Homo sapiens: one gene and its partner. The main gene of each other region encodes a partner of the protein of the gene in region 2 in a complex. Each region holds a gene or a part of one and is shown on either strand. Other genes may lie near its edges. A codon is read from its position in the direction of its gene.

The links.
Region 1: the proteins of ITGAV (region 2) and ITGB8 are in contact, whole or in part, in a cryo-EM structure (PDB 8TCF), measured with the Homo sapiens proteins. Residues at the interface, in NP_002201.2 of Homo sapiens: Tyr48, Phe51, Trp123, Leu141, His143, Gln150, Glu151, Arg152, Pro154, Phe184, Gln186, Phe189, Pro204, Trp209, Asp249, Tyr251, Tyr254, Arg275, Arg278, Thr279, Gln301, Met302, Ala303, Tyr305, Phe308, Pro328, Leu329, Met331, Ser335, Asp336; in NP_002205.1 of Homo sapiens: Ser197 (codon at 3,378), Pro198 (codon at 3,381), Ile202 (codon at 3,393), His203 (codon at 3,396), Pro204 (codon at 3,399), Arg206 (codon at 3,405), Ile250 (codon at 4,905), Asp251 (codon at 4,908), Thr252 (codon at 4,911), Pro253 (codon at 4,914), Thr287 (codon at 5,911), Ser288 (codon at 5,914), His289 (codon at 5,917), Leu290 (codon at 5,920), Ala291 (codon at 5,923), Leu292 (codon at 5,926), Asp293 (codon at 5,929), Lys295 (codon at 5,935), Leu296 (codon at 5,938), Gly298 (codon at 5,944), Val300 (codon at 5,950), Pro302 (codon at 5,956), Glu321, Ser324, Leu325, Gly326, Gln327, Glu330, His349, Trp350.

Annotation. Positions count from the first base shown.
Region 1 is NC_000007.14:20,375,874-20,382,907, forward strand, and holds part of ITGB8 (integrin beta-8 precursor), read left to right. Parts: intron 1-1,457; exon of another isoform or gene 1,458-1,528; intron 1,529-3,177; coding exon 3,178-3,424; intron 3,425-4,792; coding exon 4,793-4,958; intron 4,959-5,853; coding exon 5,854-6,012; intron 6,013-7,034. UniProt on the Homo sapiens protein: Integrin alpha-V:beta-8 (ITGAV:ITGB8) is a receptor for fibronectin. It recognizes the sequence R-G-D in its ligands.
Region 2 is NC_000002.12:186,593,026-186,600,059, reverse strand, and holds part of ITGAV (integrin alpha-V isoform 1 preproprotein), read right to left. Parts: intron 1-7,034.

The sequences.
Region 1 (7,034 bases), on a different chromosome or scaffold from region 2:
GTGGTAAAGTATTAATAGAAATATATTCAACATGGCTTGTGCAAAATTAATAAAATTCTTTAGGTAAAATGGCTTTGAAAATCATATATTATGCTTGAGGAGGAGTGAATGTGGGAGGGGGTTATTGTCATGGGGCTTGTCCTACTTGGGAGGAAGGAGGAAAAGTGAGGAGCAATCATTCCCCTTCCCTTCCTTCCCCTCCCTAACATTTCCAGGCTCTGTTTAAAACCAATGGATATTGCCATTAAGCACGTGATGAAACTGAGGGTGCTGTCCCTGTCAGGGCAGGGATCCATGGTCTATCAGGACATTTCTGCTGTCCTTTTCATGTAGCCACGTCCCCATGCCAACTAGAGTTCCTTTGGTACTAACTCTGAAACCACTGATGGGAAGTGGAGATTTTCCTGGAAACCCTGAAATGGGTCATAGTACTTCATTAATTAAATCATTTCCAGGGTCACTCTAAGCCCATGTTTTGTACCCTATTCCATTTCTCCTCCAAAATTATGCCCAGGCATCTTGTCCAAAATAGTTTATAAGTGGCTCTATGATGAGATCACGTACAAAGGTTAAGTGGGGGTGTTAACTAGGGACACAATATCCACAGTGCTGCAAAAAGGTATTTCTATGTCCTCTTACTGTGGAATACTGATGCCTAGGACACCTGCCCCCAAGAGTCTTCTCCTTTATTTATAATTATATGATCCAAAGCCAACTTGAGAGCATATTATGAGGACTATCTCAAACTAATGGGCATGACATGGTAATCCAAGCTTGACCCCTTTGGTTTCCTCCTTATCAAGCAGAGCACGATTTGGGGTCAGCCTAGCTAGGTCTATTTACCTTGAATTGACTACTTAAAGCTAGACCCTCACAGCAAGCTCAAGGGTCTTGCAGTGTAAAAATATCAATTATTATTCTTGCTAGCGATTACTAAAAGGCCTGTGTATGGAAATACTCTTTTCCTCTTTATTAGAAACTTCTCTACCAAGGCCTCAGCTGACTCCGGTATACGTGCTAAGGCCAGAATTTATAGAATCCAAAATCGAGCCACAGCAGCCCACACTCTCACACCCCAACCATTTGGCAGTGCTTTCTCACAGCCTCTCTTCTTTGCTGAGGCCAGCGAGACCGGAATTTGCTTGCTAGGCTATGAGCAGCTGGTTTCTGCTGAGGGCCCTTGTGTGGCTAGCATTTGGTTGGAGGGCCCTGAATAGCTTACCTCCAAGGACTGGGCTTTTGCTGATGCTGTACAGGCCCTGGTTGTTTGCTGAGGTCACCAACCTATACCTTTGCTGGGTCCCTGGCACAATATGCTGACCATCTATTACATCTAGCAGTACCTCTGAAAACAGCCATTTATCTTTAGACAGAGCCACCATAAACTGCAACGATTCACCAAGATAAAAATACCATGATACCATGTGGCCGGTTTACAAAAACAATCTTTTTTAAATCTACAAAGATAGCAACACTTTTCATCAACAGCAGTTCACCTAGAGAGAGTCGACACTTTTTGTCTGAGTGAAAAACAAAACCAAAAAAACGCTGATCCACACATCAAGGTTCAAGTCCCTGAACATGAACCGCTCTCCCAGTAGTGTTGAATTTCTACTTCTCATCGATCTGGCCCAGTGTACCAGTGTCTAACATTCCCCTGAATTTAATTTCTCCACTCAAATTGCAGAACACTGCCACAGGAACAGTTCTTTCTGTCAACAGAAGCCCAAAAGCAGAGCAGAATATAGGATATGCTCTCAGGAGGCAGCCTAGCTTCTGAAGGCAAGGGATGAGAGAATGGACTGGGCTGGGCCATGTGTGCCCTATTTCTCCTTTCAAATATGGGCCAAAACCTAGGAGCATTACACTAAAGGGGTTGCCTGCACAGAAAAAGCAAATTAGGAATGAGTAGTCCCTTTCTCCATAATTATTATTATATACCAGCAAAACCTTATTATTTTGAATACAGTAGGTAATTTGGCTGAAAAACATCTGATTTGTGAAATAATCGAAAAGAAAATATTGCTATTTTATGCTAACACCAAAAATATAATTTGATAAATTAGAAGGTTCTTTAAATAGGTAAATTATGTATACAAATGAATGTTTATTTTAAAAATGTTTTCCATTCGGAATATTCTTATGGAAAAATAATGACTTACAAAGCATTTACTTAATAGTTTAAAAAAGTAAAATTTACAAATTACAAATTGCTTACATTTAAATAGATGCCTTTTCACCATATACTTGAAATTAAAAGTAGAGGTACCAACTCTATAGAGGGTTAGGGGGGACAACCCAAGTCCTTGTATCAAATAGTAATATGACAGAGAACTAAATAAAATTGTAGTTCCCTGCGGGGACTACCGACATTTGTCCTTGTGGCAGCCCCCTCTCCTCATCCAGTTGTTTTGCCCAAGGTGGGTGCCTCGCTCATGGGCCCCCTCCTCAGCATGTGTTCATTGAACACCTACCGTGTGTTGGACAAATGCTGACCCCTACCTTCCCCAGGTCCTCCATGTGGCACTGCAGGGCACCATTCTTTAGCCCACTGTCTCATTCCTTCACTTGGCTAACTGATGGGAAGAATCTTACCAACTAACTAGTGATGAGGTACTAATTATTTTGAATAGCTTGCTGTACTACACAGTACCAGAGTTTTCTCATCTCCTGTGTAAATACACTTTAACCCAAAGGAATAAATTTATGCCTTTATCCAATAGGAGATCACCTTTTTTTAAAGATACCTTCCCAGTTTTCCTCAAGTCATTCCACACGTACATCCCCCTCACTGTCTTGAGATCGAATGCCGCTTGCTGGTTTGCACTGTGTTTTTCTAGCTACTAAGGCAATGGAGGTTCATATAATGATACAATACCCTGTTACATTTATATGGAGCTGGCCCATTTGTTATTATCCCTATTCAGCCTATAGAATTGTGGGAAATGAACTGTAGGATTTGGAGACCAATAAATTGGTATGGTTTTCAAATTGCCTTATAATTATACTAGAATAATAATTATACTATAATTATTATAATTACACTAGCATATTCCAAATTTTATGTGCAAATTTGTGATGATTGTGCTAGGTGCTAGAATGTGACTAATTTATTAAGAGCTTATCCTGAAAAGTTTAAAATGAAGACTACATGATGTTTTTCTTCTATTGAACTAGGAGCCGAAGCTAATTTTATGCTGAAAGTTCATCCTCTGAAGAAATATCCTGTGGATCTTTATTATCTTGTTGATGTCTCAGCATCAATGCACAATAATATAGAAAAATTAAATTCCGTTGGAAACGATTTATCTAGAAAAATGGCATTTTTCTCCCGTGACTTTCGTCTTGGATTTGGCTCATACGTTGATAAAACAGTTTCACCATACATTAGCATCCACCCCGAAAGGATTCATAATCAATGCAGGTATCTAGGGTTTGATGTGGATATGCTAAATTAATTTTTTGCTTATAAAATCTCACTTTGTTTTTAATGTAAAGAACTTACCAAATTTTATATTTTTATCTTATAAAATAAGAATAAAAATATTTGGTGAGGTGGGGAGGTTTCTTCATATCTGAAAACTTCTGAGATGAACTGTAGATTGGGCTTTTTATTTTATATTTCTTTAAATATTTAGTCAGTTTTTATCACCAAAAAAAACAAAAAAACAAACAAAAAACCCTACCTAATGTTAGTAACTTTGAATGAAGCTTCAATAGTTAGGCTGCCATGTATATAAATACCTCTTTGGAAATTCTGTATTTTTATTTTTTGATTGCTCCAAAATTGCTGAATTATGATTTGACACATTTTAAAGAGTTTGTGCCAACACGTCATCTATCTCTCCATTACTGTACTGTGACTGGGGATAATGATGTTGTCTCCGATGTGACTACAAAGAAATCTCAGTTATCACAAAGAAAGTGGGTCAAAAGATGAGAATTTGATTGCTTAGAAAGAGCCTTTTTTCTTATCATTTTAGATTTCTGATTCTAAATAACATATGTCCCACTATGAAAGAAGAATTAGCCTTAAAAATACAAGTGTCTCACACAATATTGCCATTAGCCTGTGGAATTTTCAGAAAAATAAATCTGTATGGATCTTTTTTCACAAAAGACTTTATCTTTCTTGCTTCTACAAATTGCTTAGATTACTTTACAATACACATTCCAATTTACCGAAACAGCTCTGTCATCTGTTGTACCGGAACAGGATTGATGCATCCATCAATGGAGTTTCATAAGCCTTCTTGAGGTGAATGTACAGGAGGAATCATTCTTACTTTCTGGGTATCATAGATTCTCAAAATAATTTTAATGAATATTGATTGTTCATCAATAATTCCACCAAGCATCACTTTAAAAATTAGTGCAGTATTAAAAAAAACTAATATCATATTTCAACTAAATTCCTCAAAAGCATTTTCCAGAAGTGTTTCTCAGCTGTTCAATGATAAGAAATCACTGCACATTCTTATATTCACCTTAAAAATTCACAGCGCAGATTAAATATTGAAAGCCTTTAACTGTCCTATATTAAAAAACATGTTTAATCATCTTTATTTTTTTGAATACCAAATGCTTATAGTCTTATTTCCTATTTGCAAAGAAATTGTCATCAGCATTGAGCTTATCTCTAATTTTATAAGCATAGATTTTCGTCGTATAAAGTTTCCCTGGCACAAAAGAAGTACTCCCTTTTCACACAACTGTACAATTTTACTGTTAAGTATTCCAGAATGCTTAAGAAGAGCAAAATAAACTTTACACTTCTTCTTTTCCCACACAGTGACTACAATTTAGACTGCATGCCTCCCCATGGATACATCCATGTGCTGTCTTTGACAGAGAACATCACTGAGTTTGAGAAAGCAGTTCATAGACAGAAGATCTCTGGAAACATAGATACACCAGAAGGAGGTTTTGACGCCATGCTTCAGGCAGCTGTCTGTGAAGTAAGACGTTTCACATGATCGAGTGTTTGCTAAGATGCCAAACTTTCAAAGAATTTAGACGTTTTATTTTCTCTTTGATTTGTGGAGTGAAAACGTAGTGTAGAAGAAAACATATCTTACTATCTCTTACTCCTCACCAAGGTGATTCATTTCGGTATGTGTTTGGGACAGAGGGGCTAAATTCAGGGAGGGATTTAAATAGGAAAAGACAAAAGGGAAAGAATAGGTTATGAACGCGAAAATTCTTTCCAAAAGGGCTGCTTTTCTCATGCGCCACACTCCAAGGAGGAACTAGAAGTAGACTGTTGCCCTCCTCACTTCAGCTTGTTCTCCTACTTTTTTTTTTTTTGAGACGGAGTCTCGCTCTGTCGCCCAGGCTGGAGTGCAGTGGCGCCATCTCGGCTCACTGCAAGCTCCGCCTCCCGGGTTCACGCCATTCTCCTGCCTCAGCCTCCCGAGCAGCTGGGACTACAGGCGCCCGCCACCACACCCGGCTAGTTTTTTGTATTTTTAGTAGAGACGGGGTTTCACCGTGTTAGCCAGGATGGTCTCGATTTCCTGACCTCGTGATCCGCCCGCCTCGGCCTCCCAAGGTGCTGGGATTACAGGCATGAGCCACCGTGCCTGGCCTCTCCTACTTTTTAATCTATATTGTTCTTCCTCCAGTGGAACACTAGAAATCTCTAGCCAGGAACTAGTGTGGTCACATGGCTGTGGGAAAATAGAGGATGTACAAATAAAAGTTAAAGCTATTTACGCAGCAGCGTTGTACCCACGCACATCGTTCTAGCCTGACTTACTGTTCGTCAACTCAAACGTAATGTTTACTTGAGGTAAAAACCACAGTACACATCTGTGTTATTGTACAAAGTCTAATTACATGTTTATTTTTAAGAGTCATATCGGATGGCGAAAAGAGGCTAAAAGATTGCTGCTGGTGATGACAGATCAGACGTCTCATCTCGCTCTTGATAGCAAATTGGCAGGCATAGTGGTGCCCAATGACGGAAACTGTCATCTGAAAAACAACGTCTATGTCAAATCGACAACCATGGTAATGCAGCAGTAACCGCTTAGTAGATATGACTCTTTTGGTTAAAGTACAATTTTAAATTGGCAACTCAACTATTTTTGTACCAGGAAATTACCTACAAAAGAAAGATACAGAACAAGGATAAGCCATGAGAGAGAATTTATGGAACAGTGCAATCTATAAATACTGATCAATAAAATATATGAATAAAACAGTTTGACAGTTTCTAGTAGCTGACTCTTTGATGAATGACAAAGCACTGTATAATTTTTGAAAATAAAAATGATACAAGATTTTACTTTTTATGTAATTCTAAGACAGGGGAAAAAAGTATACCTTTGCTTTATACAAATAGACCAGGTCTACGGGGTCGATATCTACAAACATTTTAAGGAGGAAACCTCACAGTACAATAGGTAGAAACTAAATAGAAACCAGGGAAAAAAGACAAGAGAGAAAGAGAGTCAAACAAAGCAGGCTTTCTCTGTTTTGTACTTTACCTCTCTGCATCTTATCTATTTAAGGTCTCTTTTTAAATCAGTGACTATCTGGCTTGCTTCCTGAGGGTTAGTATAAGCTCTGAATCATATATTTAATATAATCACCTAGAACCATATCTTCCCTGGCATTATCTAATTCTAGTTGTGAAGAATCAACAGTCCAAAGCATCATTTACTTCTGATGTTGACACTTATTTATATATTCTTGCATATGTTAAAACAGAACCTCTCCAACTTTCTCAGTTCATGAGACCCTAGTCTCTCAGTGATTTTATTCCATGACACCCGTGGGTCAAAAGAAATACCTAATAGTTCTGTTTTTTTAAGTGGTTAAGTCCAAATAACTCAACTATTTATGTCTTAACAACTTAGTATCTCCTTAAAAATAATACAAATGTATCAAGTGTAGAGATACATGTTTCAGTTTTAGTAAGTAACTTCAGAAATTTTCAAATCCTGAAATCAGATTGGTCATCACTACCCTGATTTCTTCTTCCGTGTTGATTTTCAAGTTGACCAGCTTGGTAAAGATTAATGTCATTT
Region 2 (7,034 bases):
TTAAGAAGAATGAAATCATCTACTAAAGAAAACTAAATGTTATGCCCTATGGGGAAAGCATTAAGGGAGAGGGAGAAAAAAATGGAACAAGGAAAGCAAAGGACTGGCCGCAGCTCAGGGAGCAGGTGAGTGTGATCTGCAGTAAGAGGGTGGGTGGAAAGATAGGTGACAGATGGAAAAAAACATCTGGAGTACAACAGCAATCGCTGGAGGCCTGAATATGAGAGAAAAGACATTCAAGAATGCCACCTAGATTTCCTTCTTGAGTGCATTGATGGGAGAAAAGCCTAGAGAGCAGAGAAGCAGAAGGCAGATTAAGTACTTACAGGAGTTCAAGACTAGCCTAGGCAACATAGTAAGACCCCCATCTCTACAAAGAATAAAACAATTCACTGGGTGTGGTGGCATGCGCCTGTGGTCCCAACTTTGGGGGTGGAGCTGGGGTCCTGAGACAGGAGGATGGCTTGAGCCCAGGAGGTTGAGGCTGCAGTGAGCTGTGATTACAAGTGCTACAAAGTAAGCAAACAGCCTGGGTGAAACAATGAGTCCCTGTCTCAAGAAATAAAATAAAATTAGTATTTACAGAAAAACCATGAATTCAATTATTAATATGTTTGTTTGAGATATCTGTGAGTCATCCAGTTGTAGTCTGAAGCCCTGCCTGAGACAGTATGCTGTATCAGAACACAGTTGGGGTTATTCAGCCAGGGGAAGCGTCGAAAGAGGAGGGGCAATGAGTGAGTTCTCAGGGACAACAACATTTAGGAGTCAAGAAGAGAAAGAAGATAAAGTAAAAAAGATTTTTGTCTTTAATCTCAAGAAACTGATTGAAATATAGGAGGAAATAAAGCAGGATACAGGCAGACAAAAACAGTCCTAAAATGCTATCACCATAATCATTTTGTTTCATTAAATACTAAGTCACTTAAATTATTCTGGCAAAGGAAACATTTACAATTGCTTTTCACCTTTTTGTGAAATTAGAACGAATGTACATCTTAAATATGGAATGCATTCACTTGAACTTTTAAAATCAATTTCTTATTCTGGGTAGTAGCTGCCAAATCTCATCTACAGTAGACAAAAGCTGGCTGTACGAATTGCAGGGTTACAAAGAATCCTGCTTTCTGACACTTATCTTAAAAATCCACAAATTCAAAATAAAGACGTAACTCCCAACCAAACCACGCCCTATTTAATAGAGCTCCATGCAGTCATATCTGGCATCAGTAAAACACCAATGTTGGCTCTCTCCCATCACGGCAAAATGATTCTGGGTAGAAAATGAACTTAGTTTTCATTCAGCAAAAGTCTTTCATAAGAAAAAAAGAGGTTGGGCACAGTGGCTCATGCCTGCAATCCCAACACTTTGGGCGGCTGAGGCAGACAGATCACTTGAGGTCAGGAGTTTGAGACCAACATGGCAAAACCCCATCTCTACTAAAAATATAAAAATTAGCCAGGCGTGGTGGCATGAGCCTGTAATCCCAGCTACTCGGGAGGCTGAGGCAGGAGAATCACTTGAACCTGGGAGGTGGAGATTGCAGTGAGCCAAGATTGCGCCACTGCAGTCCAGCCTGGGCAACAGAGGAAAACTCTGTCTCAAAAAAAAAAAAAAAAAAATGCTATGAGTAAGAGAGTCCCCACCTCCCATAACTAAGAGAGCAGCTCGTCATCAAAACCCCATCGGTTCTTTTTCTAGAGCAGAGTTGGTTAACACAGTGAAACTCTGTGTGTGTGTGTGTGTGTGTGTGTGTGTGTGTGTATAAATTATAATATGTAAATTTATTACATATACAATTTTTTTTCTACGGGTCTAAAATTTGACCCCAAAATCACACAACTACCCCTTTTCATCAGAATTAAATGATTTTTGAGTGCATACTAGAACAAAAGAACAGTTCAGGTAAGTTTGCTTTTGAGGGTCAATATCTTGAATAGTGCTTGCTTGGGACATTGCCACAGTAGTCCTAATGAGAGTAATACAAGCACAGGTATGTACACGTTCTTAGTGTTGTAGATCATACCAGGTTCTACATCAGGATAGGAGAACTGGTTCTCAAGCTTTGCCTGGAAACCTACAAGCAAAAATCACTTCTGGGTTGTCTTCAAATAGTAGCTCACAGCAGTGGTCCCCAACCTTTCCTTCCCTGGACATAGAGGGGGATGCTTTCGGGATGAAACTGTCCAACTCGGATCACCAGGTATTAGGTTCTCATAAGAAGCATGTAACCTAGATCCCTTGCATGCACACTTCACAGCAGGGTTCACACAATAGGGTTTGCTCCTATGAGAATCTAATGCCACCACTGATCTGACAGGAGGCAGAGCTCAGGTGGTAATGCTCACTCTCCTGCTGCTCACTTCCTGATGTGCAGCATGGTCCCTAACAGGCTATGGACTGGTACTGGTCCATGGCCCGAGGGTTGGGGACCCCTGTCTTACAATATATTTTATAACTTTTTGGTCAAAACTATTCTGCCTACCTTATGATAAATTGCTTCTTTGAATGTAGGGTACTCTAATTCATCTTTTGCACCTGCCACATTATAAGAACTCAAGAAAAGTTTAAATGGACAGTGGAGTAACAAAGTAAATTCAATAGCTATGTCTCAATCTTAAAGTAGCCATATATAAATAAGTCATTTCCACTACGTCTGAACCCCTCAAGAATGCAGAAAGCATCCTCTATTAAACATCCAATTATTTAAATTACCCTTAAAACAATTTCCTTGTGTAACATCTCTACTTAATTTTGGGTTTCAGATACTTTCTTTACTTGGCACTATAAGACAGAGAGAGCTCGGAAGTTATTAGGAGAAGGCCTTCAACAAAGACAGAGAAAAAGAGCCCAGTAGGAGCATTCTCTGAATGAAAACACCACTCTATTGGCAGCACATAGCATGAGTTCCTTGAATAATACCAGGAACAAGCCTGTTGCTTTTCATCAGGCTATCTGCACATTATAGGCATGAAATGATGGTAATCAGGTGTACAAATGGATGTTCATTAAGTTTTCCTAAGCATACCTTCATGTGCAGACTTGCATACTGGTGAAATGCTACAGAAATGGCAGAATAATATAAAAGGAATGTGTCAATATCTACATGCTAAATTTGTGAGGGAAAAAAGCTGATGAAGTTTTTCATCCAAAATGCCATCTCGATATTAAAGTTATCATTAAGATATTTAAGTTTTTTAAAGAGAACAATGAAGAGATAGAGAAAGTAAAATGACCTTAGACATATGTTAAAGTCTTACGAGGAAGCTGTGTAGTGAAAAAGAAATACTTGCATAGAAAACTGGGTACAAGGTGATAAAAGATGCTATATAAAAAAATTAAGGAATAAAAAGCAACACAGGCCAGGCACGGTGGCTCATGCCTGTAATCCTAGCACTTTGGGAGGCCAAGGCAGGAGGATCACTTAAGGTCAGGGGTTCAAAACCAGCCTGGCCAACATGGTGAAACCCCATCTCTACTAAAAATACAAAAGTTAGCCAGAAATTGCTTGAATCCAGGAGGCGAAGGTTGCAGCAAGCCAAGATTGTGCCACTGCACTCTAGCCTGGGCAACAGAGCAAGACTCCATCTCAAAAAAAAAAAAAAAGCAACACATACTACAAAAAACAAAGTTAATAAAACACTCCATAAAAATAATTGTTACTTGAATTTCATCTAAGAATGACTAATGAAAGTGTACAACAGCTTAATTAGGGTAAGAGAACTGACAGACCAGAAAAAAAATGTTTGTGATCTAAGCAGCACTATCTAATGGAAACAGTTTGGAATTAAAATTTACAAACACTGCAAATCAATTGAAGCAGTAACTTTGAATCTCTGTTCCCTTCTATCGAATGGCAATAACAATGCCCACTGTAATTACTTTAAAAAGAAACTTTCTGAAGGTGATAATAAATAAATGCAAACTTAGAAAATCTGAAACACCACGAAAATACAAGATGATGGGATTTAATTATCATCTTCGTCCTGAAAACAATTGATGCCATTAATAAGTTATTCCCTAGAAGAGTAGAAAATGTAAAACTTAAATTCTGTCTTTAAAAGGGCTTTTCTTTCCTCAGTGTTTTCAAAGGGCCATTAATGGTCAAGTGATTAACTCAAATGAAGAAGAAAAAGAGAAAGAAGGGTAGAAAAGCCAGCTTAAACATTTCTTATCAATGGTGGCGAGGTGGGGAGAATACACAGGGTGAGGTAAGGTTGACAAGAGTTTTCACTGATTAGCAGTGTAAATCTGAAGCTGAGTGACTTAATTTCCTATGCCCGCAACTCTCTCCTGATAGACTCCATTTCCCTCCAAAAAGTATGTCCAAGAACATCATCAGAATCCCCATCCTCAACATTTTTTTTTTTAATGACTGGAAACACTGCCATTAAATAACTCTCTGGGACTTCAAAATTAAGGTTTACATCCATGCCAAGAAGTGCTAAAATATAAAGGATTGAGTTTGGGAGAGAGGACAGAAAGATGGATGGAAAGGAAGAAAAGAGATAGAGGAAAGGAAAAAGAGAGGAAGGACAAGAGACAGAAAAAGAAAAAAGAGAGAGCGATACAGAGGGAGAGGTATCAGAGGAGGCAGTGAGAGGGAGACAGACAAGAGGCTCAGAGGAACCAATCAGGAGGATGGCCTTTGGATGCACTCCCTATCCAAACTGTACTTGAAGGGCAGTTGATTCACGGAATGTGACCTTGACAACCAAGGAGGGGCAACCTGCCAAACAATGACAAGTCCATTTTTCAAACCCTCCAAATAAACTAACTTGTTTGTCTGCTTTCAGCACTGACCTTTCTAAGATAAAGCATGTTTAATATATTTAGCTGACTCTGAGTTGACCAATGAGCCTTCACCAAAAGGAACTTCTGAAAAACTATCATACATGTATATAGAAATAAATGTGTATGAAATAGTACTGAATGTTATTTCAAAGCTACAATTCCAGTTTCAGATTTACTTTTCATTTTTTAAAAAATGCTTTTTTGAATCAAAAGAAAAACAAAAATGCCAGTCAACAACTACTGTAAAACAGAAGCAGTAACTACAATTTCCACATATTTTCCCTTGTCTTTCATAATGCTCTATGAAACATCATATGTCCTTAATCAGAAGTAATATAGGATTTGCTTTCTAAATAACAAAATTATAGCCTAGTTTTATGTCCCCTAATATACATGTATATTATTTATGATGAGAAAAATCAGCCAATATAATCAGAGCTACTCTGAAGTTTATAAAAAATGAGCTGGCATCATTTTGTAAAGTGTTGTGAAAAGGGTTAAAATGGTAAGAGTAGAAATGGTACATGAAGTTTTAAAAATACACACAGGTTGGGACAGATTGCAAGTGACCTTAATCCATGTTAAGCGGTTTGGACTTTCTTGCTGGCAATGGAAGCTTTATTATGAAAATTTTTGCAACAGAATACCAGGATGAAAAAGGATGTTACAGAAAGATAAAATGAATAGAAACAGACAAGATGTTCTGCACGTTTAAGAGCCAAATGATGGGCAGAGGGATGGGGGAGGACCTGAGTGCCACTGACTATGCTTGTCATAACTACACTGAAATAAGGAGTAGAAAGCAGAGATGGAATCAAGAAAACCTTAAAAAGGAAGAATTTCTAGGAGCTTCTGCCTGTTGACTAATCACTGACTGATATTAAGGTGGTGAAGTAGGAGAAACACAGAAAAATAGAACATGAGAGGGAGGAATATGAAAGTATTTCCAAGGTGACAGAGAAAATGATGCCAGCATTAATAGAAACAGAGGTGCAACTAACATCTCTTGGTGAAGACTTTTTAGTCAAATTGAGTTAAGACAGGCTAGTCAACGAGAAATGATTCACAGGCCAGGCCACTGGAATATCAAGTCAGAGATCTACTTTTAGATTTAAGATACAGCCAGGGCAAGAGTTTTATTTAAAAGGCTTTCCAGATATTGCAAACATGAAGTTAGGACTGAGAACCATTGAAGGACCTTCTGCTTCTAAGGCATACACATCTACACATTGCCAACTGTAAGATAAGGCTCCATTAGCGTTTAATGGGGGGAAAGGCAAGAATCCAGTGTCATTCATTATAGCATTATTTTAAAATAAAGAAATACATAAAATGAGAACTGTATAACATATATTTGAAGAATGAATTTTAAAATTGTTCAGTTATTTTCTTTAAAAATTCAATATTTGAATTAATAAAAGTGGGATTTGAATTTTACACCCTGTCTTCGGATCCTTCCCTTCCTTACCCTCTACTCACACCAACCTACTCAAATAACTAGACTGCAAACGGTTCTGCCTCCATTTCCTCCTCATCTGTAAGAATGAGTATATCTGCTTCCCCTTACTTCCCCCCGGTGGTGTGGGCTATAGAATGAAATGAGATATAAGTGCTTAGCAAATTATAAAATATGTTTACCAAAATAAGATGTCATCATTATAATTAAACCTAGGATGTAATTTTTAATTTTTCCAATTAGTCTCCACAAGAAAAGTATGACTCTAATTATTAGCCTGCATACAATCTTTAAATTTTATGTAAGTTTTACAACATAGCATAAATAAATGCTTATAGAAAAAAAAACAGAATGCGAATGTTTTTTCATAATTTTGAAAATCACTATATTTGTGAATTTTTACTTCGAACCTGACTCATTTCTGGAGTGATTTTTTGAGGGGCCGCCTTAACATTTTGCTTAGTACTTTGTCCTTCCCTTTAATAAATATTGATTCATTAATTTTCACAACAAAACTATGAACTATGCAGATAATTCAATAATAATTTTCTATAAAGAGAAAAATTAGGCATAAAATAATTCTACAGCTTCCCCAAGGTATGTGGACACCAAAACTGGAAAAAGCAACAGGAGTGGACGTCACAACCACTGCTCCTCACAAATCCTTCTCCCCTCAGAAGAAAGGCGCTCTTGAATTGACAAATACTTTTTCATTATGTGGCTTTTTTTCTTTTAAAAGTTTATGGTAATACCAAATAACAATAAATCCAACTGGTAATATTG